Linked DNA regions of Homo sapiens. The protein of the gene in region 3 interacts with the protein of the main gene of each other region in a biochemical or structural test. Each region holds a gene or a part of one and is shown on either strand. Other genes may lie near its edges.

The links. Proteins that work in one complex are often made in the same cells at the same time.
Region 1: the proteins of DAPK1 (region 3) and KLHL20 are reported together in a solved structure, tested with the Homo sapiens proteins (2 studies listed by BioGRID and IntAct, with this or other methods).
Region 2: of the proteins of DAPK1 (region 3) and PPP2R5A, one has a biochemical effect on the other in vitro, tested with the Homo sapiens proteins (one study listed by BioGRID).

The regions. Positions count from the first base shown.
Region 1 is NC_000001.11:173,752,972-173,760,153, reverse strand, and holds part of KLHL20 (kelch-like protein 20), read right to left. Parts: intron 6,942-7,182; coding exon 6,847-6,941; intron 4,232-6,846; coding exon 4,116-4,231; intron 3,179-4,115; coding exon 2,995-3,178; intron 1-2,994. UniProt on the Homo sapiens protein: Substrate-specific adapter of a BCR (BTB-CUL3-RBX1) E3 ubiquitin-protein ligase complex involved in interferon response and anterograde Golgi to endosome transport.
Region 2 is NC_000001.11:212,280,781-212,288,582, reverse strand, and holds the start of PPP2R5A (serine/threonine-protein phosphatase 2A 56 kDa regulatory subunit alpha isoform), read right to left. Parts: upstream 3,174-7,802; 5' UTR 2,473-3,173; coding exon 2,292-2,472; intron 1-2,291. UniProt on the Homo sapiens protein: The B regulatory subunit might modulate substrate selectivity and catalytic activity, and might also direct the localization of the catalytic enzyme to a particular subcellular compartment.
Region 3 is NC_000009.12:87,492,920-87,500,970, reverse strand, and holds the start of DAPK1 (death-associated protein kinase 1), read right to left. Parts: upstream 3,105-8,051; 5' UTR 2,864-3,104; exon of another isoform or gene 2,599-2,863; intron 2,390-2,598; exon of another isoform or gene 2,335-2,389; intron 2,002-2,334; 5' UTR 1,894-2,001; coding exon 1,832-1,893; intron 1-1,831. UniProt on the Homo sapiens protein: Calcium/calmodulin-dependent serine/threonine kinase involved in multiple cellular signaling pathways that trigger cell survival, apoptosis, and autophagy.

The sequences.
Region 1 (7,182 bases), on a different chromosome or scaffold from region 3:
GGTTAATTCAAAGACCTTGTCTTTGAGCTCTGAATTTCTTTCTTCTACTTGTTCATATCTATTACTGAGACTTTCTAGAGCATTTTGCATTTCTAAAAGTGTGTCCAAAGTTTCCTGAATTTTTGTTTTTTCATTAAGCTATCTATTTTCTTGAGTGTTTCTCCCTTCACTTCTTGTATCATTTTTGGATTTCCTTGCCTTGGGCTTTGCCTTTCTCTGGTCCCTCCCTGATTAGCTTAATAACTAACCTCCTGAATTCTTTTTCAGGTAAATCAGGGAATCTTCTTGGTTTGGATCCATTGCTGGTGAATTAGTATGATTTTTTGGGGGTGTTGAAGAGCCTTGTTTTATCATGTTACCAGGGTTGGTTTTCTGGTTCCTTCTCATTGGGGTAGGCTCTGTCAGAGGGAAGGTCTAGGGATGAAGGCTATCGTTCAGATTCTTTTGTTCCACGAAGTGTTCCCTTGATGTAGTATTCTCTCTCTTTTCCTATGGATGTGGCTTCCTGTGAACCAAATTGCAGTGATTGCTGTCTCTCTTCTGGGTCTAGCCACCCAGCAAGTCTACTCAGCTCTGGGCTGGTAGTAGGGGATGTCTGCACAGAGTCCTGTGATGTGAACCATCTATGGGTCTCTCAGCTGTGGATACCAGCACCTGTTCTGGTGGAGGGTGCAATGGACTCCGTGAGGATCCTTAGTTTTGGTGGTTTAATACCCTATTTTTGTGTTGGTTGGCCTCCTGCCAGGAGGTGGTGCTTTCCAGAAAACATCAGCTGTAGTAGTGTGGAGAGAGACTGGTGGTAGGTGGGGTCCTAGAACTCCCAAGATTATATGCCCTTTGTCTTCCACTACCAGGGTGGACAGGGAAGGACCATCAGGTGGGGGCAGGATTAGGCATGTCTGAGCTCAGACTCTCCTTGGGCGGGTCTTGTTGCGACTGCTGTTGGGGATGGGGGAAGAGATTCCTAGGTCACTTGAGTTGTGTACCTAGGAAGATTATGACTGCCTCTGCTGAGTCATGCAGGTTGTCAGTAAAGTGGGGGAAAGCCGGCAGTCACAGGCCTCACTCAGCTCCCACACAAACTGAAGGGCTGGTCTCACTCCCATGGTCTCACTCCCACCGTGCCCCTCTCACAACTCTGAGTCTGTTTCCAGGCCACAGGCGGGCAGCAGGCTTGCCCCAGGCTATCCGCCTCCCAGCTGCAAGAGAAAAGGGCTTTAGTTTTCCCCCTGCCGGTGAAGTCTGCATGCAGGATTTGCACCCTACCTTGAGTTCTGGTCAGGAGGCTTCTCACCCTGTTCAAATTGTTACAAAGTTCAGCTAGAGAATTCCTTCTCCCTGGGGAGTTTTATCCCCTGCTCCTCTGGCCACCCTCCCAATGGATCCCTGTGGTGCCAGGCAGGAATGGCCTGCTTGGGGACCCAGCAAACTCCCAGGGCCTTTCTGCTGCTTCCTCTACCCCTGTTATTTCGCTTGCCTCTCTAACTTGACTCAGCTCCAGGTAAAGTTGGAAACTTCTCCTGCAAACAGACCTTCAGCTTCTCCAGTGGGGGTGTGTGTTTGGGAGAGGAGGGTCTCCCTTTCCCATTTCTGCAGTTGGGGCACTCCCAATATTTGGGGTTTCTCCCGGGTGCTGCAGGAGCAGTCCGCTTTCTTCAGAGGGTCTGTGGGTCCTCTTGAGATTGCTGATTTTTTCTTGCAGTCAGTCTGGAGCTAACATTTGCAATCAAGCCTCCGCATGTTGCCCGGTCTGGAGCTTCAGTCTAGTCCTGCCTCCCGTCTGCCATGATCCCTTCTGTGATGCCATCAATTTATTTTTTCCCTTCTGTGATGTCATCAATTTATTTTTAAGTGTGTGTGTTGTTTTCTTTTTCTTTTTTTTTTTGAGAGAGTCTTGCTCTGTCACCCAGACTAGAGTGCAATGGCGCAATCTCATCTCATGGCAACCTTTACCTCCCAGGCTCAAGCGGGCCTCCTGCCTCAGTCTCCTGAGTAGCTGGGACTCACAGGCGTGCACCACTACAACTAGTAAATTTTTGTATTTTTTGTAGAGATGAGGTTTCTCCATGTTGCAGTTGTTTTACTTCTATGGGACTGATCCCTCTGCTTTTTAAGATTTTTCCCCAGCTGCACAATCTATATCTTTAGAACTTGATATGCGGCAGCGTTTCATAGATGTGTTATGGAAACAAAGAGTCACTGTTAATCAACACAGCTTCTTGAGAGCAAGAAGCTATTGAAACATCAGTTACTAGAGATTCCCAATGTGCCCAGTCACTGCGATAGATATTATGGTGAAACACATTTCAACACGTATAGTACAATGTGATGGATATGTACAAACATGTTCAAAATACTTATGGAAGGGCAAAGGAACAAGTAACTAGTAACTAACTCATCTGTATGGTATCATAGAAAGTTGTATGTATTAAGTAACATTTGTGTCTTGAAGAAAATGTAAGTCTTTTTTTTCTTTTTTTTTTTTTTTTGAGAAGGAGTCTCGCTCTTTTGCCTAGGCTGGAGTGCAGTGGCGTGATCTCGGCTCACTGCAAGCTCTGCCTCCCAGGTTCTGGCCATTCTCCTGCCTCAGCCTCCCGAGTAGCTGGGATTACAGGCATGAGCCACTGCACCTGGCCAAAGGAAATGTAAGTCTTAAAGTGGCAGAAGTATCCCAGGGAAAAAAGAACAGCATGCATATATGTAAGGAGAGAGGTATGACTTGGAATGGACATGCAGCATGTCCAAGGAACTGCAGGCAATTTGATGTGTCTGTAGTAGCATGCTTAGGGAGTGGTAGTGTGTCATGGGAGACAGACTAGAAAAATAGGCGGAGACCAGATCATAAAGAATTTGTGTATCATACTAACTTGTTTAGGTTGCCAACTAGTGCCACAGATGCAATACTAAAGCATTAAATCAATTTGTTTCCTAATTAACATCTCAAATAAAACTATATGAATAGTAGAGAGAAAATTACAGATTGACCTTACTCACCTTTCAACACTATTGAGATAAGAGGATCCATCATGGCCTCCTACTGCATATAACAGATCATCAAGAACACTGACCCCAACTCCGCATCTCCTTTTGCTCATTGAAGCCACCATTCTCCATTCATTGGTCTGTGGATCATATCGTTCAACACTGGAAATGGCATCTCCACTGCACCAACCACCAACTGGGGAAGTAACAGAAATGGTCAAGAGAATCCTATCCTGAAGCATAAAATGTAACACTCACTACTAACTTCACTGTGACCTAATGCTTAGACTCACCAAATGTCTCTAGTAGTAGGTCAAAATGCAAGTTATGACTTCAACTCATTCCACTGGGATTGCTATAATCTTTAATCAATTCTGTAAATAAGTTAGTATTACGTCTATTTTACAAAGGAAGGCAATGATACCAATTCACATAGGATTATGAGATAATATGTATATATGGATAGAATGGAGAAATTATAGATGGATATGCATAGAATGGAGAAATAAATTATAATTGTTTAATGTTTTTTCACAATTCCATGTGATTATGGGATGAGCTGCACATTGATATATAAATTAATGCATGTGACTCATTTCAACAAAACATCTACTGCACGACATTTTTATTTTTTATTTTTTGAGACAGGATCTTGTTCTGTTCCCCAGGCTGGAGTACAGTGGTGCAATCACAGCTCACTGCAGCCTTGACCTCCTAGGCTCAAGCCATCCTCCTGTCTCAGCCTCCCAAGTAGCTGGGACTACAGACATGCACTACCACACTCAGCCAATTGTTTTTCTTATTTTTTGTAAAGATGGGGCCTCCCTATATTGCCCAGGCTGGTCTCAAACGCCTGGCCTCCAGAAAGCTGTATAGGCATGAGCCACTGTGACCAGCCAACATTTTTGGATTTATATAAAAATAGATATTAAAGGTGTTGAATGAGAAAAAAGAATAGAGCACTCTTTTGGAGTATATCAGTGTGGAATCATGGGTTATGAGTCAAGCTATATGCTGACTTATTATTTGTGTCTTATGACAGTAAATATCATAATTGTCCAAAGGATTTTTCAAATGACAGTTTCTCACCTGGGAAAATACTCAATTTACTAACAGTATATTAAGATCCAAACCTGCAAAGAGTACTTCCCCACATCGGATAGGTTTCCGTGGTCTCGTCCTTGGTCCTTGCATTAGTGGTCGTTCTTGCGGCAATAGGAGGTAGTTTTTAGCCTCATCTACCAAGTCTCTGTAGAAAAAATTCTGCCTTTATTCCAAATATCTAAATTACATTGTTAGTTAAGTCCCAATGTAGTTTAGGAATATATAGGTTGGCAAAGGGAAGCAAGCATAAATCAAACCAAATCATGAATGCCAGCCAATATTAAAATTGGCACAAACATGAAACCAATAATGCCAGTCAAACTGAGTTGTGAATTGATTGGTATTTCCATCATGACTCATGTCTCACTGCAAATTTAGCCTAAAGCTCAACATGCTTACAGCCAACAATAACTTATAGAAAAGTAAAAATTACAATTTGATTACCACACTGCAGAGTTACTACTTTTTAATAAATTTTATTAGATTCTGCAAGATATTAGCAAGGTAGCACATCAGCCAGGGCAATAGTTATTTGCTAGATTAAAGTAATAAAACTGGGTCAAAAATCGGATTGCTGAAAAGAAACACTGTACTGCCACAAATTTGCTATCTGGTAACATATGAATGGTTTACTCTCAACAAGTCTACCGAGACATATTTCCTGTCTTGTTAAGACACTTTAAGAGAAGAGTCTAGTAATTACACATGTAATGACTTTGCAGTGGCTCACGCCTGTAATCCCAGCACTTTGGGAGGCTGAGGGGCGGTGGATCATGAGGTCAAGAGATTGAGACCATCCTGGCCAATATGGTGAAACCCCGTCTCTACTAAAAATACAAAAAGTAGCTGGGTGTGGTGGTACGCGCCTGTAGTCCCAGCTACTCAGGAGGCTGAAGCAGGAGAATCGGTTGAACTTGGGAGGCAGAGGTTGCAGTGAGTCGAGATTGCACCACTGCACTCCAGCCTGGCAACAGAGCGAGACTCCGTCTCAAAAAAAAAAAAAAAAAAGACAAAGACTTTGATCTCCTAATAGCTTGTTAGGTCATTTGAGGGTTCCTACAAATAATACTATAGAGCTATAATATTGAGCAAACCAACACAAAATTAATGGTAGTAACAACACTTACAGCTATGTGCTAGTCCTGGTTTTAAGTGCTTAATAGATATAAACTCATTTAATCTTCACAACAGCCTTATGGAATAGGCACTATTATCATCCTCACTTTATAGAGGAAGAAACTGCAGCAAAAAGAAGTTAGGATATCAGGAAGGGTCTTCTTTTAAATATGACTTCATAAGTACTTTTACTTTCTGCATCAGAATCAGTACAATACAATCTGATTTACTTTTAATGGAGGAGGGCATCTATGTATTATTTCTTCAGATTTCAGCATGTATAATGTACATGGTTTTCCTTTTTGCTACTGCAAATATTTAGGAGAATTAATTGCCATTTGTCTGTGTGTTTTTTTTTTTTTTTTTTGAGACTGAGTTTCACTTTTGTTGCCCAGGCTGGAGAGCAATGGTGTGATCTTGGCTCACCGCAACCTCCACCTCCCAGGTTCAAGCAATTCTCCTGCCTCAGCCTCCTGAATAGCTGGGATTACAGGCATGCACCACCATGTCCAGCTAATTTTTGTATTTTTAGTACAGATGCAGTTTCTCCATGTTGAGGCTGGTCTCGAACTCCTGACCTCAGGTGATACACCCACCTCGGCCTCCCAAAGTGCTGGGATTACAGGCGTGAGCCACTGCGCCCGGCCTGTCTGTGTTTTAAATATAGAATACAAAAATCTAGTTTAACTCTAGTCTATGGTAAACTGAAAAATGAAGAATGATTAATATAAAAAAGATACAATAAAATAAAATAGAAACATCTAAAATCCCCTCCAGCCTCTCCTGTTAAAAGAACAGGCTTTAGTTTATAGAAGAAATGCAAGTGAATCTACATGTCCTACCACCATTCTAGAATCAGGGATCATTCTAAATGTCTTTAATCACCAAGGGAGGTTCAAAGGTCAGTGTAGTTTACAAAGTTCTGAGTATGGATTTTCTCTTTCACTTTTATATTTGGGACATGCTGGGGAAAAATGGTTAACAATCCCAGATGATTTCAGATTTGAACCTAAATCTTACAATCTGTCAAATTGGGAATGTAATTTATTACATTTTGTATATACTTTAAAGACAGCCTAGTAAAATAGGTTGCTTTTTTCCCCCCCTTTGAAAAAGTAGTTAAGAGTTTCTTTCGTCAAAAAACCTCTGGAAACTGCTTCACCTAGTTTTAGTGAAAATCTTTCTACAGCTGTTTTAGAAAGTGGCAGATCTTCAACTCTGTCCACAATTTAGAAAGCAAGGCTGATTCTATTCCCCAACCAGACATATGTGATGGAAGGAAAAAATGTTCATTGACAGAGTCAACAGCATTATTTAATTATCTCAAGGAAAAAAAAAATATTAGCAGAGAATTGACTCTTTAAATTCAAGCCTGCATTAAAATCTTGGAAATCTACCTTTTTATTGCCACTTCTACACCAGTAAGCACCACACATAAAAACCTAATGGAATGAAACACTGGAAGTTCAGTTCTCTCTTCTTCTTTTCCTCCTCTTGACTCTAGCCCAGAAGAAAACCTTGTTAAATTAAAGCCCTGGTTTCAGCTCTGCAAAATACAATATTTAGGAAGCAATACAAATAAGGAAATTAGGAAAAAATAGGAATGCTTAGTTGTTGATTTTTCCCATCCAGGGTCACTCATACCTGCATTCTTCATCACTTTTGATGAGGGGATCAGAGCCTACTGTGCCGACCAGGAACTTGGGACTAAGCAAAGGCAAACGAACATGCTGCAGCACCTATGAGAAAATAAACACCATTATTTTAATTAATTAATTTTGAGATAGGTCTTACTCTGTTGCCTAGGCTGGAGTACAGTGGCATGATCGTAGGTCACTGCAGCCTCAATCTCCTGGGCTCAAGTGATGTGCCTACCTCAGCCTCCAGAGTAGCTGCAACTACAAGTGCATGCCACCATGCCCAACAAATTTTTGTATTTTTTTTTTTGTAGAAACGGGGAATCACCACGCTGCCCAGGCT
Region 2 (7,802 bases), on a different chromosome or scaffold from region 3:
GTTGTTCCTATTAGTTTGTAATCCAAGTAAGGGTCTTATTTCCTCAATTAAATTTGCATAAATTTATCCTGAATACATAATTTTCCTTATGATGAATACTGTATTTTCATGCAAATATCTACAATTAATGTAAAGTTCCAATTTACTTTCTTCTTTACTAGTGACCAAATACTATATGGCACCTTCAACTTGTTGAACCCTACATCATATAACTTAGATGATTACTGACTCTATGCATATTTTTCCAAGCTTTTAAAAGCAAAATGTGGCCAGGTGCGGTGGCTCACGCCTGTAATCCCACCACTTTGGGAGGCTGAGGTGGCCTGATCACCTGAGGTCAGGAGTTGGAGACCAGCCTCACCAACATGGTGAAACCCCATCTCTACTAAGAATACGAAATTAGCCGGCCATGGTGACACATGCCTGTAATCCCAGCTAGTTGGGAGGCTGAGGCAGAAGAATTGTTTGAACCCGGGAGGCGGAGGTTGCAGTGAGCTGAGATCGCGCCATTGCACTCCAGCCTGAGCAACGAAAGTGAAAAAATAAAATAAAATAAATAAAATAAAAGCAAAACCTATCAAAGCTGCATCTCCTGGCTTGAAACCAACCAAATGTTTAATATTCAATTACTTTTATTAAAGTATACTATTAAGAAGTACAATACTAAGAAACTAGAATATCTTACTAAAAAGCAAATTAAATAACTATGAAATAACCCTAGCACCAAACCTTCAAACTACAGTTTGACAATTTAATGGGAGAAAAAAAATCAGTAGTATAAAAAAACTATGATATTTTAAATAAGTGTAAATTTTAAAATCTATGAATAGCAAAGACGATATTCTTTTATAGCTATGACATCATTCAAGAATTAAAGTCTTGGCAATGCCTATCATTATAGTCTACCATTTTGCTATGTAAATTTTAACAATTTTTATATGCTAAAGAGCAATCAAATGATAAATTCGATAGCACAGACTAATATCTCAAAATCTCTGTTCAAAAGCCAGTTTGATTCTAACTGTGAGATGTCATGATTTAGAAGCACTCCAAGAGTCAGGGCAAGGTAGGGTCTCAATAGGGTTCTGGAGCTGTTGTAGGTCAACTGTGATTTGATCTGGGGTTTTCTTTAGACTCCTTGCCAAACTAAGGCTGGATTCACAGGCCCAAAGACAAATGAGAACCAGACTGGCCTTGAAGGGGATGCTGCAGCTTTTTCAAATGAATTGAAAAATCTGAACATCAGATGATAGGGATTTCCGTCAGGTTGCAAATTTTATCTAAATATGTAGGAGCATTATCATCTTGTTCCAACATTTCTATCTCATAAAAAGCAAGGACATTAAAATTATAAAATTAAGCATGAGTAATACACAAAGAATAAACTAGAACACCAGGAAATAACATCGAAAATCCTCTAAACCTAGTGGGAAAAGTGAGCCAAAAAGAGTGCCAAGTTCTCCTGCAAGGCATTAGGCACGGATACCAATTTGAATTCCTGTACAAACCTACAAAGTCCCTGGAATCACTGCCTGGCAAACTAAGTTCCCATTCGACTGCAAAGCAACACTACCTACTCCTTCGTATTTCCAAATAGACCATGTGTATCGGCTCAGACAACAGAATATTTTAAATCTATTCCTTGAGCTAAAGGATACCATTTAAAGCTAACGATCCTGTGAATAAGATACTACACTGGTCAAATTTTAGGCTTTTTCTTTATAAATACATCCAAAGGCCAGCTAACTCTTAACCGTTGTTTGCATTCGGATTCCTGGTCTGATGACTCTTAGGGGCAATCAATGGGAAGTGAAGTTGAGAAGAAGGTGGGTGCAGACGGCTTTATAACTGTAAAAGTAAAGGACTAGCTAAAAGTGGCCGAACAGAGGAGCTGACACTCGGGAAAGTGAAGGTCGGGGAAGGTTCGTGCGGTTGTTAAAGCAAGACCGGGAAAGGGCAAACCTGGAAGAGGAGTGAAGGACTCTACTTCACGGGACGCAAGATAGGAAGTGCAGGTTAAGCAAGCGCGCAGGTGGGGAAGGGTGTTGGCCTCCCCTAGGATGGAAAGAGTTCAGGTGGGAATTAGAAGGAAACAGCCAAGACTTCACAGAAAACCTGTTTGAATAAGGAGGAGGGCGTGAGGTGACGCCAAGGCATTGTGGGGAACTCGGCTCACACACTACCAGTCCCAACTGAGCAGGAGAAACCCAGCAGGAAATGGCTCTGCTGGCGCAGAGGCAAGCGTTGCCAGCCCCTGCGCTCGCTGCTGGGGCTGCGCCCTCGGAGGTTACCTTTGAGCTGGGGCAGCGGGTGCAGCTCTGCCTGGCTGCCCTGGCTGCGAAACTGCGACGAGCCCTGGGAGCGCTTCTGCCTCTGCGCCTTGCGGACCGATTTCCGGGTGAAGCCGTCCACTTTCTCCGAGGCCGAGATGGCGGCGCTGGCAGCCCCCGCCGGCGGCGACGACGACGACATCTCCGCGGCCCTGACGCTTGGCAGCTCCGGCTGCTGCTTGCAAGGCACGGGCAGCGGCGGAGACGGCAGGAGGAGGCGGGGGAGAGGCGCGGGGTGCTCGCGCCCCTGCGCCCCGGCCCCACGGCCCTCCGGCCCCGGGACGCCGCCGAGCTTCTCCTCGCCGCCCGCCAACGCCTCACGGCCACATCTCAGCGCTGGAGGTTCCTGGTCCCCGGCGCGCGGCGAGCTCCCGGGGCTGACGGAGGGAAGGGCGGGGGCGGAGGGGGGTGAAGAAGTTGTTGACTCTGGGCGCGCAGAGCGGGTGGAAGAGAGCCCGAAGTTTAGACAACTGAGGCGGGGGCACGGGGGTGCGGGTGCCGAGCGCGCCTCTCGTCGCTTCTGCCCCCGTCGCCAGCCAGCCGGCCGGCCAGCACCTCAGCGGCCGCTGCCAGCGCAGCCCGCCCTGCCTGGAGCCTCCTCTCAGGGCGCTGCCATCGCGGGTCCCCTCGGAGCCACTGCCGCGGTGCCCGCTCTTCCCGGTCAACGCCGGCCCCTCATCGCCCGGGGCGCTGCCCCGTAGCCCCGGCCCTCTGCGTGCACACACTCGCTCCTTGCCGCGCTGGGCGGCCCGAACCCCCTCCCCCACGCGCCCGTCGGCCGCCCACGGAGAACCCCAGGCGAGCGACCGCTACAACTTGAGAAGGTGGTTGGTACAGGCGACTGGGGAGTGTGTGCGCGTGTGCGCGCGCCAGGGCGCGCGGCCCGGGGAGGGGCCTCGCAAGGGGTGGGAAGGAGGAGTTTGACTGACAACTTCCGCGGGGTCCCGCCCGCCTCTTGGTGCGGCGGCGGGGGAGGGGGCGGGAAAGCATGCCAGCCCTCTTAGCCAATCACACGGCTAAGCGGCAGCGACGGCGTGAGGTGCGGCCTCTTGAGGCAGAGGAGTGGGGCGGGCTGTGTGACGGGCTTCGGCCACAGCCAATCGTAAGTGAAGACGGCGAGCGGGGTGCCCCTGCGTCAGAACAAATGCGGCAAATCGCTTGGGAGGGAGGGGAAGCGCTCCTCCACCAGCGGGCATTTTTGCGCTCACGCGCGACTGCTCCAGGCTGTCATTGCTCTCCTGACCGTCTACGAGAAGACTGGGAAACTTGAGAGGGTGCGTTCAGAGAGCAAAATAGAGCGCCCCTTCCCTTCCCTCACCTCTCTGCTGGCCAATGAAGAACTGAAGCGATTGGTGGGGCGCCGGAGGGCTGGGGCGCGAAAGAGCGCCAGGTGTTACACCACTGAAAGGGGGCGCAGCAGAGGTCAGGTGGCGAGCAAGCAGTGTGATTGACGGGCGAGGGGCCCGGGGAAGGCGAGAAGGTGAGCTCGTCCAATCGTTGCGAGGTCTGGACACCTGGGCGGGTCTTGGCGCCTTACTGGCCCCAAACCGCAAAATTGGTAGTTGCGGAATAAATTTGTAGCTCTTGGGAGGTTCGGACTCCGCAACTCCAGAGAGCTACTCTCGCGTGGGGTTTGGGCAGTCTAGCATCTGCTGCTTCAAAGAGTTCTGCAAGTCCACGCCCTCTAAAAAGAGATTTCTCATTCCCAATTTAGTATCCTGCTAATTTTCACCCCTCCTTGAGCCAAAGGCCCTCAACTACTCCAACGAGAAGAGTACAAATTCATTGGTCAGTGGTGTGTGGATATGGAGGCTTGCCATGTACTCTTACCGGAATCTCTTTCTTGGAGATTCCGTCTAGATTTTGAATTTCTTAAGGACGAGGACTGGTCATCTTAGTTTTTCGTGCAGTGCTTTCCATACGGTGGCCGTTAATAATTATTAATCTGAACAGTCAGCCTCCCTTTGCGCCAATGGACCCAAATCTGTAATCCCCTCCCTCGAGCTCCAGACCTTTTCCTTTCAACATAATAAAAGTAATTGTCGTATATTTAAACGAAGCCACCTGATGCATATGTACAGAAGATTCCAAATTTGGCAGGAAGTTGAATTCTAGACCTAGAACCAAACATACTATCCTCAAAACATTTCCTCCTTCAGATTTGCTGGGCGGTGAAATTGTACATAATCCTCCCAGTCAAGGAGGTTCAAACCTCAGCAGCGTTTCTGACACTTTTCGCTTTCTCACATAGTCAAGCTCCAGATCATGTTAAATCTACTTTCACAATTGGCGTTTCTCCCAATGTGTACAAAGACCGCCAAACGTAGTTCACGGCTTTCAAACTCACTGCCACATCAATCTTTTAAGATCACTTTTATCTTACCTGCGTGTTTGAGGAACCACCCAATACCTGCAGAATAGAGTCCAAATTCAAGACTCTCTGCGATCTGACTCCTGTCTTTCCAAGTGTAAATTCCTACATGTGCCCACAAAAACTCTTTTTAGTTCAGGCACATCATTCCACATACTGATCCCCTAAAAGAAGTTATGCATCCTCAACACTTAGTCTTTGCTGTTCCAACATCTTGAAATAATCCACTTTTTTTTTTCTTTTTTGAGACGGAGTCTTGCTCTGTCACCCAGGCTGGAGTGCAATGGTGGCACAATCTCGGCTCACTGCATGCTCCGCCTCCCGGGTTCAAGCGATTCTCCTGCCTCAGCCTCCCGAGTAGCTGGGATTACAGGCACCTGCCACCACGCCCGGCTAATTTTTTGTATTTTTAGTAGCGACGGGGTTTCACCATGTTGCCCAGGCTTGTCTCGAACTCCTGACCTCGTGATTCGGCCACCTCCGCCTCCCAAAGCGCTGGGATTACAGGCGTGAGCCACCGCGCCCGGCCCATTTTTTTTTCATCTTTTTGAAATTTCTTTTCTTCAAACCCCCTATCTTTTATGAAGCTTGACAATCCAGCCAGAAGTGATGCCTCCCTTCTTTGTATTCCTATTGCATTTAGTGTCCACACCACTCACAGCTGAAAGTTTGTCAACACCAAGAGAGCAAGAACTCAGTTATTTTATTTTACACCTCTGTTTCCCCTACTGAGCAGAGGATAACAATCACATTTTTAGTTCTCAACAGCAGAATTTCTGAAAGCGTGGTTACTGGATCACCTGCATCAGCATCCTCTGGGGTGCTTATTGAAAATGCAGATTCCTGGACCTCCCCCGCCTCCCCCCAACAGAACTAGAACCTATGGGAAGAGCACTGAGAAGTCTATTTTTAATAACTTCCCTAGGTTATTCTTATGTACACAAAAGTTTGGAACTACTATTCTCTAGTCATCTAGAAGTTATTAAAAACAGAATGTAAATGTCTGTAAGTCAGGAGTAGTACTATTTATAATAATTTACATAAAATAAGAAAGGGAGACAAATAGCAGAAAGAAAATCAGTACAGGCCGGGCGCAGTGGCTCACGTCTGTAATCCCAGCACTTTGGGAGGCCGAGGTGGGTGATCACGAGGTCAGGAGTTTGAGACCAGCCTGGCCAACATGGTGAAACCCTGTCTCTACTAAAAATAAAAAATTAGCCAGGTGTGGTGGTACGAGCCTGTAGTCCCAGCTACTCAGGAGGCTGAGGCAGAAGAATCGCTTGAACCCGGGAGGCGGAGGTTGCAGTGAGCCAAGATTGCGCCACTGCACTCCAGCCTGGGTGACAGAGTGAGACTCCGTTTCAAAAAAGAAAAAAAAAAAAAGAAAAGAAAAAAATAAATACAATAAAGCAAATTCTGTAAGTCAATACAATAAATCATATTCCATGTTCATACTGGAATGTGATAAATAATAGATACTGGATATAATAGAAAATACTGGAAACAAGTTTTTGGGAGTCTTGGAACCAGCAAAAACCATCTGGGCTTTGGTGAAACAGCCTCTTGGGGAAGAATTTTGAGCATAATTTTAAAGATCAAGTCAAAACCTGAAAAGAGAGGATGGCATTCCAGATCAAGTCACTAAGCATTTTCCAGGGGGAAGAACAAAAGCCCAAGAATCAAAATGCCTGACTCTGTGCTACTTATCAATAGAATGATTCTGTCCAGTCACTTTTTCCACATGTGTACATCAGAAAAAAAAAATGACAACCTTCTTCACAGGGCTGGCATGAGTTTTAAATATGACCCAAGAAAAAACACTCAGGGAAATAAAAATTATGTAGATGAAAATATTATGCATACATGTATATCAAACGTTTATTTTCCGTCCACTATTTTGAGTAAATAAGGTATCTGGGTCCTAGACAGAGATTTGGTCACTAAGAATCATCTAATAGGAAACTGCAATGACAGTACTAATCTATATGTGCCCCTGAAGCAGGAAGAGTGTCTTTGATTCCATGCCATAGAATTTCTGATCCTTCCCATATGTGAAGCTCCTTGGTCAAGAGCAATTTAGAGGCCAGGATTGCATCACTAACAAATTCCTTGGATGGTTTGTGCTTACATTACTTAACTTCCTTAGTTTATAAACGTATATACACTTACTGACCTTATCCTTTTGTTGAGAAAAATGATGCGAGAAAAAGTAATATCCACAACATCAAAATAATGGTTGTGTAATGGTTTTAAAGAGCACATCACAGAGAGTGTTCTTTTCAAATCACTGTGAAATTCTCTAAAGCATATCCAAGCAAAGTTTTGACTGTCAACATTCTCTTTCCTTAAGAGTCATGATTCCCAAACTGCTCCAATAGAACACCAGACCAAGGTGCCGGATCTACAGAATCAAAGAGTGGTAGTATTTTCCAAATTTACACAAAACTTCTCTCATGATCAGGCACAGTGGCTCATGCCTGTAATCCCAGCACTTTGGGAGGCCAAGGCCGGAGGATCACTTGAGCCCAGGAATTCAAGACCAGCCTGGGCAATGTGGCAAAACCCCATCTCTACTAAAAATACAGAAAATTAGGTGGCGGTGGGGGTGTGCACTTGTAGTCCCAGTGACTCAGGAGGCTCAGGTGGGAGAATCACCTGATGCCAGGAAGTCGAGGCTGCAGTGAGCACTGATGGTGCCACTGCACTCTAGCCTGGGAGAAAGAGTGACACTTTATCTCAAAAAATAAAAATAAAAAATATCTCATATCTTTTAAAAATGTTTGCATCTTACTACCACTTTACTAGAATCTAAATCAAGATAGTATCTGACTTATAAAAATACACTAATTTTTAGTGCCTCATTTCTATTTATTTAAATACATTCTCATTATTTAAAATTCAGAAGGAGTAAAAGGGCAACAGGAAACGTCTCACTCCCACCCCTGCTTCCCAACATCTGGTTCCCCGCTTTGGGGACAACCACTGCTATCAGTTTCTTATATATGTTTCCAGAGATATAATGTGTTTAATTGCTTAAGGCTTAGCAAAGTCACACTTCAAGAAGCTGCAGGAGAGAGCACCAAATCCTAACTGCTATTCCA
Region 3 (8,051 bases):
CACTCATTTTTTGGCAAAAACAATAGCAGTTATACAAGATAGATGAGTCTGTACATTTCATTTTTAAAAACTTCAGACTTCCAGTTTTTCAGAGCATTTCTTTAAAATTCCTAGGTCACACAAATTATTTAATAAACAATTTGTCAATTTGCCTTGCACAGTGGGGAGAACGTTATACACAAAAATGTACACTGAGCAAATCAAAGTGCTAGTGACAAATAAGTAAGCCACCTCCCTCCCCTCATCATCACGCCCACGAAATAAAGATCAAAAACTCCCTTCGCCAACCACAGGGAGGCCTCTTTTTCTATTTCTTTCTCATAACACATAATGGTACCAAAAAATCATAATGAAAATAAGGTCAATATACTTAATCCATAATATAATAATCTCAACTAATTTTAGTCATCTCTCTTTCTAACAACACTTAAACGATCAGGCCACACTATGCAAATCAAATTAAAATTTATTTTTTTGCTTTTTTCTTCCAGTCCCAAAGGAAAACTCCAAATACCACTCATCTTGCTGAAAACCACAGTAAAGTTATTTAATTCCAGTTAAACCAAATATTTCACCCACACACTCTTAAACTTTAATCTTAAACATATCCATGAAATGTGATGTTTGAAGAGCTTTCCTTATTTACTCACCAGATCATCAATATACAGAGAGCTCTTCCTAAGCACAGGCCCCCATCTATGTTTTCAGTCGATACTAAATATTTAGAGAAATACTCTGTTACAGTAACTTTTAAAAAAATTCTACACTATCATTTGAATTTTTAAAAAAATTTAGTTAAGCTTAGTTTCCATAATTCTCATTAGGCAATCCAGGATGTGGGTGTTTTTTAATTTCCTTTTCATGGAGAAAAAGGAAGCTTTGTATCAGGACATCAGATGTATATGGGAAAATACATATTTCAATGCACATATAAGTAAATACATATTTTGTTTGTTTAAAGATCCTTTTGCCTACTCCACTCACAATGTAAATACACCACAGTCAAATTCCATAAATTCAGTTTTAAATGTATGTATGAAAACTAGGTTTTCTACTAAAGTTGACCAGAGCCCAAAACACTCTGTCTAATACACAGTCAAAGGAAACAGCAATCAGCCCTTAGATGCCCCGAAAGAAACTATTCTTTGTTTACCTAGAAACTGAAAGATTTTACACTGAGAATCACAGCTGCTACAGCAATGGAGGTATGCTCTGAATCCAGATAGCCATATTAGACTCTCATTGATTTGTTAAAAATTTAACATTGTAAATGAAACCAAAGCAACCACCAACACCAACCAGGTAATTAAATTCCTGGTTGGAAGAAGTTTCAAAATCCAAGCCCAATGTCAACATCTGGCAAGTCTCCATTTACCACCTACCAATACTTGCTCAAATTACACTGAAAATTTAGATAGAGGGTAAAGTACTAAGATTTTTAAAACCTATTAATTAGTTTGTACCCTCCGTTTAAATCACACATAAAAGCTAACTCCAATTGCAATTATAATCTTAGTGTTTGTCCTGTTGTCACAGAAGGGCAAGGGCTGACAAGAGTTAGCACGGACAATTAAATCTGATTTTGTCCAGGGGACTGGATCAATATACTGTGCATCATAATCTAGCCCTGAACTGCTGCCTCTCCTCCACCCCCAGGCCCTTGGATCAGGCGGTTTACCGCTGGGTTAGTAACTCTTTTCTCTATGATTTGCGCATCTCCAGAAAGGGCGAGGGAGACGCCTGATTCAAACTGCATTTGTTTACCACCCAATGGCCCCATCGTTATGCATTTCCACAATCCAGGAGGGTACGCTTCTGGTACCCCCTTTACCTGCCAAGTTCCTCGCCGGTGTCGTAGTAATCATCCACGTTTTCCTGCCTGAACACGGTCATGATAAACTGTCACGCCTCACCAAAGCCCAGGGCACTTCAGCTCCGCTTCCCAGACCATCACCACCGCTCCTGCGCCTCCGTAGCCCCCTCATGCATCAGTCTCCAGTCCTTTTGAAGAAAAAAAAAAGGCAATAATAATAGTAAAATGGCAACCCCAAAAGGAAGTAGACCTCCCCGGCGCTAAGACCCCGCTCGCTGAAGACCGGGTCTCCGGAGCTGCCCCTCCTCGCGGGGTGGAGAGGAGCACCCTTTGTTAAAGCTGGGCGGCCAGGGACGCCCCCGACCCCTCAGCCCCGCGCGCGCGTGGGGCCGGGCACCACGGCACCCCGAGGTCGGCGTCCCCAAACGCTGGGCGGTCTGTTGGGATCAGAACCGGCTCCGGAAGTGACTGGCCTCCCCGCCTCCCCTTTCTCTGCACACATGCCCACCCAGCTTTCCCACCTCCAGGGACGCCGCGGAAGAATGAAGCCCTCGCCCAGACGGTACGCGCCTCACTGGGAGCAATCTCTCTCCAGCCTGCGGCAACGGTGGCACCCCCGCGCCACCTCTCGGCTCCCGCGCCTCTCCTAACACCGTGGCCACCCTCTCCCCTTCCCCGAGCGAGGCAGTCCCCAGAGCCACATTCCTGGCGACTCCCTCTCCGTTACCCGGCCGACCCGGCGTGCGGCCGCCCGGGGGAGCAAGGGAGGGAAGGGAGCGGCCCACCGAGGCGCAGCAGTTCGCTCCAGATCCTCGCGCCCCGACACAAAGCGCCTGGTCGGGCCGGCGCCACCTGTTCTCACCCGGCCCGCGGGGCTGGGGAAGCCTCCCGGCTGCGATCGCACTTCTCCCCGAAGCCAAGTTTCCCTCCGCCTTGGCCTTCCCAGTTGCTCGAGGCACTGCCCGGACAAACCCCACCGCGCCCTGGCTGGGAAAGCAAAAGCTGGCGCCGGGGGTCGGGGGGACCGGGGAGCCGCGCCTGGCTACTCACCCGGGCGCCTGGGAGCTCCCCCGGTCCCTCCGGAGCGCTGTCGGAGGCCGACCATAGGCGCCAGCGCCGGAGACTAGCCGGGGCGGCGGCGGGAACACAGCTAGGGAGTGAGTGGGGGGCGCAGATCCCTCCCAGGCGCCGGCCCCAGACCCTGCCGCTGCGAGTTGCCGAGTCCCCTCCGCGGAGGGAACAAAGTCCCCGGCGTTGGCTCGGTCCGGCTGTCCTCCTCACACTCCGAAGCAGCCTCTCGGCTCCTTGCCGCCTTTTGGGCGGAGGGCGGCCGGCAGGCGGCCAATGGGGACCCTGCAAGCGGGCTGGCGGCGCGGCCCACCCACCTCCGAGCTGCCCTGCCAGGCCGGCGCTGCGGGTTCTGCGCGGCGCTCGCTGCTCCTCCCAGCTCCGCGCTCCGGGCTCGCTGGCGCGCTCTACCGCGCACACCCCGCACACACCCACTCGCCCCACACCCACGCCGGCCGGGGAGCCAGTGCGTCCGCCCGGAACGCGGGCGCCCCACCTGTGACACATTGCTAAGCTGCCCTCTGACTGGGTTCTAGGGAAACACGGTTCTTCCGTCCCGAGATGTGTACTGGGATCCCAGCTTGTGCCGGGCACGGTGCTTGGTATGGGAAAATCACATAGAACAAAACAGATTTTTTTAAATCCCTGCCTTCCGGAAACCTGCATTCTGGTGGGACAGATAGATAATAAATATGTAAGCTAATTAATAAGGTAATTTTGGAGGATCAGTCCTACGTTTACCACGAAACAGGTTAATGGAATAGAGAATGGCAGGAAGGGAGCGTACCTCATTAGACTGGGTTCCTCTGCCGGACTGGTGTTGGAGCCGAGGCTTGAAGGCAAGAAGGTTTGCAATCTGAAGAAAGGGTTGAGGTCTCCGAGACCCAAAGAAGCAACAGAGACGCAGAGTTTATTTGCGCTATCCCATATGCTATTGGCTATTGTTGAGCTGAAATGTAGCTAGTCCCAAATTAATTGTGCTGTAAGTGTAAAATACACATTAGAGTCCAAGACAGTATGGATATGAGAATGAAAAATATCTCATGAATATTTTTATATTCATTACACTTTCAAATGATAGTATTTTGGATACGTTGGGTTAAACAAAATATATTATTAAAATTAATTTCACCTGTTTACTTTCTTTTTTTTGAGACGGAGTCTCACTCTGTCGCCAGGCTGGAGTGTAGTGGAGCGTGGCAACCTCCACCTCCAGGGTTCAAGTGATTCTCCTGCCTCGGCCTCCCCAGTAGCTAGGACTACAGTCGCGCGTCACCATGCCCAGCTAATTTTTGTATTTTTAGTAGAGACGGGGTTTCACCGTGTCGACCAGGATGGTCTCCATCTCTTGACCTCGTGATCCGCCCGCCTGGGCCTCCCAAAGTGCTGGGATTACAGGCGTGAGCCACCGCGCCCGGCCTCACCTGTTTACTTTTTAAAAGGTGGCCACTAGAAAATATAACAGTACCTATGTTGCTTGCATGAGATTTCTGAGGACTGTGCTGGTCTACACAAAGATCCCATATCCACTGGAGACCTCTATCCACTTTCTCTACTTCCCACCCCTTGCTCCCACCTAATGTTTGGGTGGAGACGAAGAAGGGTTGATTCCCCACATCCCACTGCTGGAGAACCCCAAACGGTGAAAAGCTCCTAAAGGGAAATCTATTTTACTGCCTAGAATGATGAAAACTGACAGATGAAGAGATTTCCGATCCATACCGTTGTTCAAATCCCCAGGCTTTCTAAACTGAGTTGGTTCAAATCTCTGTGGTTCAACAGAAATTTTCAACTGTGAAGATTTTGGCCTCTTGAAAACAAGGCAAAACAAAACAAAAGAATACCCCTCAGGCCTTATGTCAAATCCTAGTCTTTTTTTTTTTTTTGAGACGGGTTTTCGCTCTTGTGGCCCAGACTGGAGTGCAGTTGTGAAATCTTGGCTCACTGCAAACTCCGCCTCCGCCTCCCGGGTTCAAGCGATTCTCCTGCCTCAGGCTACCCAGTAGCTGGGATTACAGGCATGTGACTATGCCCGGCTAATTTTGTATTTTTAGTAGAGACGTGGTTTCACCATGTTGGTCAGGCTGGTCTTGAACTCCTGACCTCAGGTGATCCTCCCGGCTCGGCCTCCCACAGTGCTGGGATTACAGGCGTGAGCCACTGCGCCCAGCCAAATCCTAGTCTTAAATAACATTGCATTAATGACCCACAGGAAGGGCACACAGGAATCAAGGGGAAGTCCCCAAATTGGGAGATGGTATTAGCTTAAGCAGTGGGCTTGATAATACAAAAGGGTCTTGAGAGGTGAGAAATACAGTCAAAAATAACAACAACAACAAAAAAAGAGTGATTCATCTGGGAAAATGCAAATGAATACATCTGTTGGGAGAAAAAATTTAAAACACAGATGTTTGGGATAAACTTGGAAGGTGTTTATGGATGACTGCCATATGGGTAATATTTATTTTCTGCAAAATAAAAAATATATTGTCCGAGGCAATTAAAAGGACTGAATCTATTTGGCAGCTAGAATGTCTTAACTACCCTAATGGACAATGATGTTCACCGGAGATTATCTGGAGTAGTGAAAAAGAGCATGAAATTTGGAGTCACAAAATTAGATCTAGTATTGGTGGAACCATTTAACAGCTTAATAACCTTGGATGAGTCACTAACCCCCGAGCTTTTTGTGTACACCAATTTAGACAAGCATTTTAGAAAGGGGAAATGTGGTCATTTAAAAACATATTCACAAATTCTTTGACACTCCCCCAATCAAGAGGTGGAGTCTAATTCCCCTCTCAATAAATATTCACCAACCCTATCTGCTTGCTTCTAAGAAAAGGTAGTGGCAGTGGCACAGTGTAATTTATTTCCAAGGTTAGGTCATAAGGCATTAGAGCTTCTGCCTGCTTGCTTCTCTTTCTCTCTCTCTCTCTCTCTCTCTCTTTCCCTCCCTCCCTCTCCCCCTCCACCCACTCTAAAGCCTTCAGCTGTCATGATTACCCTAGGGCTGCCATGTAGAGACATGTGACAAAACCACAGAAAGAACGAGAGATGCCCAGAGAAGCCAGCTGTCCAGCCCCACCCTCACTCCCAGTTGTTTATATCTTCCAGTTCAAGTTCTGTGAGCAAAATCAATGACTTTTAATGTTTTAAGTCATTATTTCAGAGTGGTTTGTTATGTAGCAATAGATTATCTTCTTAAAAAGAAAAATTAAGAAAACTTTTCTCTTAACACATACCAGGTTCCAGACAGATGAAATAATTCTCTCAATTAATCTTTAAATAAATTAGCGGGGTTTTTATTTAATAAATAAATAAATAAATAAGTGGTTATTTCCACTTTACATGTAAACGTCTCAGTTTCATCACCTGTGAAATGAAGATGATTATAGACCCTTACATATTCCTTGGGTTTGTTGGGAGAATCTAAAGAGATAATGCATGAAACAGGACTTTGTACATTATAAAATACACCAGAATGTTGGATATTTTATTTTCTATCATGTCCCTAGCAAAAAGGACTCAGAGAGGCATCTCACACATAGAAGGCAACAATATAAGAAGCCACAAATTATGAGATGCCAGTTGAGAAGGACTTCTATAAAAATAATTATGATATGGACTATGGATTATAATAATGATGGCGATAATATTTTAAACAAACCCGACTGTAGATTTTAGAACATTATTTTACAGTCGTATTAGGGTAAAATAACCATTGCTATAAGACCCAACAAATCCCAGAGGTTTAACACATTAAAAATGTGTTACTTGCTCTCAGCACAAAGGTTTGCAGGGCATAAGCAGAGATCAGCTCCACAGTAGTCATTCAGAAACCCAGGTTTCTGCCATCTAATGAATCCATGCTCCTCCAGCGTAAGTTCCTCAGTTTATCCTTTCCATCTTTTGGCTGATGAGAGAAGAGATAATACAGGGAGGATTGCACTGAAGGTTTATGTAGGAGGTCAGATTTGAAGTCTGAGACAATCATTTTCTGGCAAGATGTTCTCAGCTCAAAGTGGACCATATTATCTCATTTCCACCTTTTGGTTGCTTTTTTGTAACATGGCTTTGGTTTTATCAAGGGCTAATATTTTTAAGAATGTTTCCCACTTTGGGAGGCCGAGGCGGGCAGATCACGAGGTCAGGAGATCAAGAGCATCCTAGCTAACACGGTGAAACCCCATTTCTACTAAAAATACAAAAAATTAGCCAGGTGTGGTGGCAGGTGCCTGTAGTCCCAGCTACTTGGGAGGCTGAGGCAGGAGAATGGGGTGAACCCGGGAGGCGGAGCTTGCAGTGAGCCGAGATGGTGCCACTGCACTCCAGCCTGGGTGACAGAGCAAGACTCCGTCTCAAAAAAAAAAAAAAAAAAAAAAAAAAGAATGTTTCTGCATTGTGGTTTCACCATTAAAGATTCTGTCCGTTACGCAGTTGAGAGCCTCTGATAGAGGCAGTCACATGACTGATTCCAGTTCCTCCCAGCACTGAGTGCTAAAAGTATTCATTTCTTCTCACCAAATCATATTTTCTTTTACCAGACAAAAGTACAGAGCTCATTCTGTTTCTCATTTTGCCTTGGATTCGCCAGAAAGCATGCGGCAAGCTCAGAAAGCACAAACCTCCATCTAATGCCCAATTTACCATCTTCTCTGATCCCGTCCATAAGCATTTCTTGAGTATCTAGTGTCCACCAAATGTTAGGGATACAGATATAAGAGAAACATTCTCTGTCCTCAGGTAACTCAGTCTGATGAGGGAGACGGATCAACAAATAGACCTGCGATTGTGCTAAATATAATCCATTTGTCACTCTACATCTAATCTACTCTCTGAGCCGTAAGATTATTTTAATGCATTCCTTGTCCTCTGGTTGCTGGTAGGTTTAGCCAATGGGGCACCTGACATGAGATGAAGGAGAAGGAAGGAGAGTGAAGCCAAGATAGTCATTCCTCTGCTCTCCTCCCTGCAAGATTGCCACAGTCCACAGCCAAACACAGGTTGCTGCTCCTCACCAGGTCCCGTCTTTTACCGGGTTTTCTCTTTCTGGGTTTTGGTAACCACTCTCTCTCCTTTGTCTTTTTGAGCCTAGGGTTGGTGCCAGCTCTGCTATTACTACCTTGGGTTCCTGCTCCATCCCTTATGGTCCCCCTGCACCTCTCCC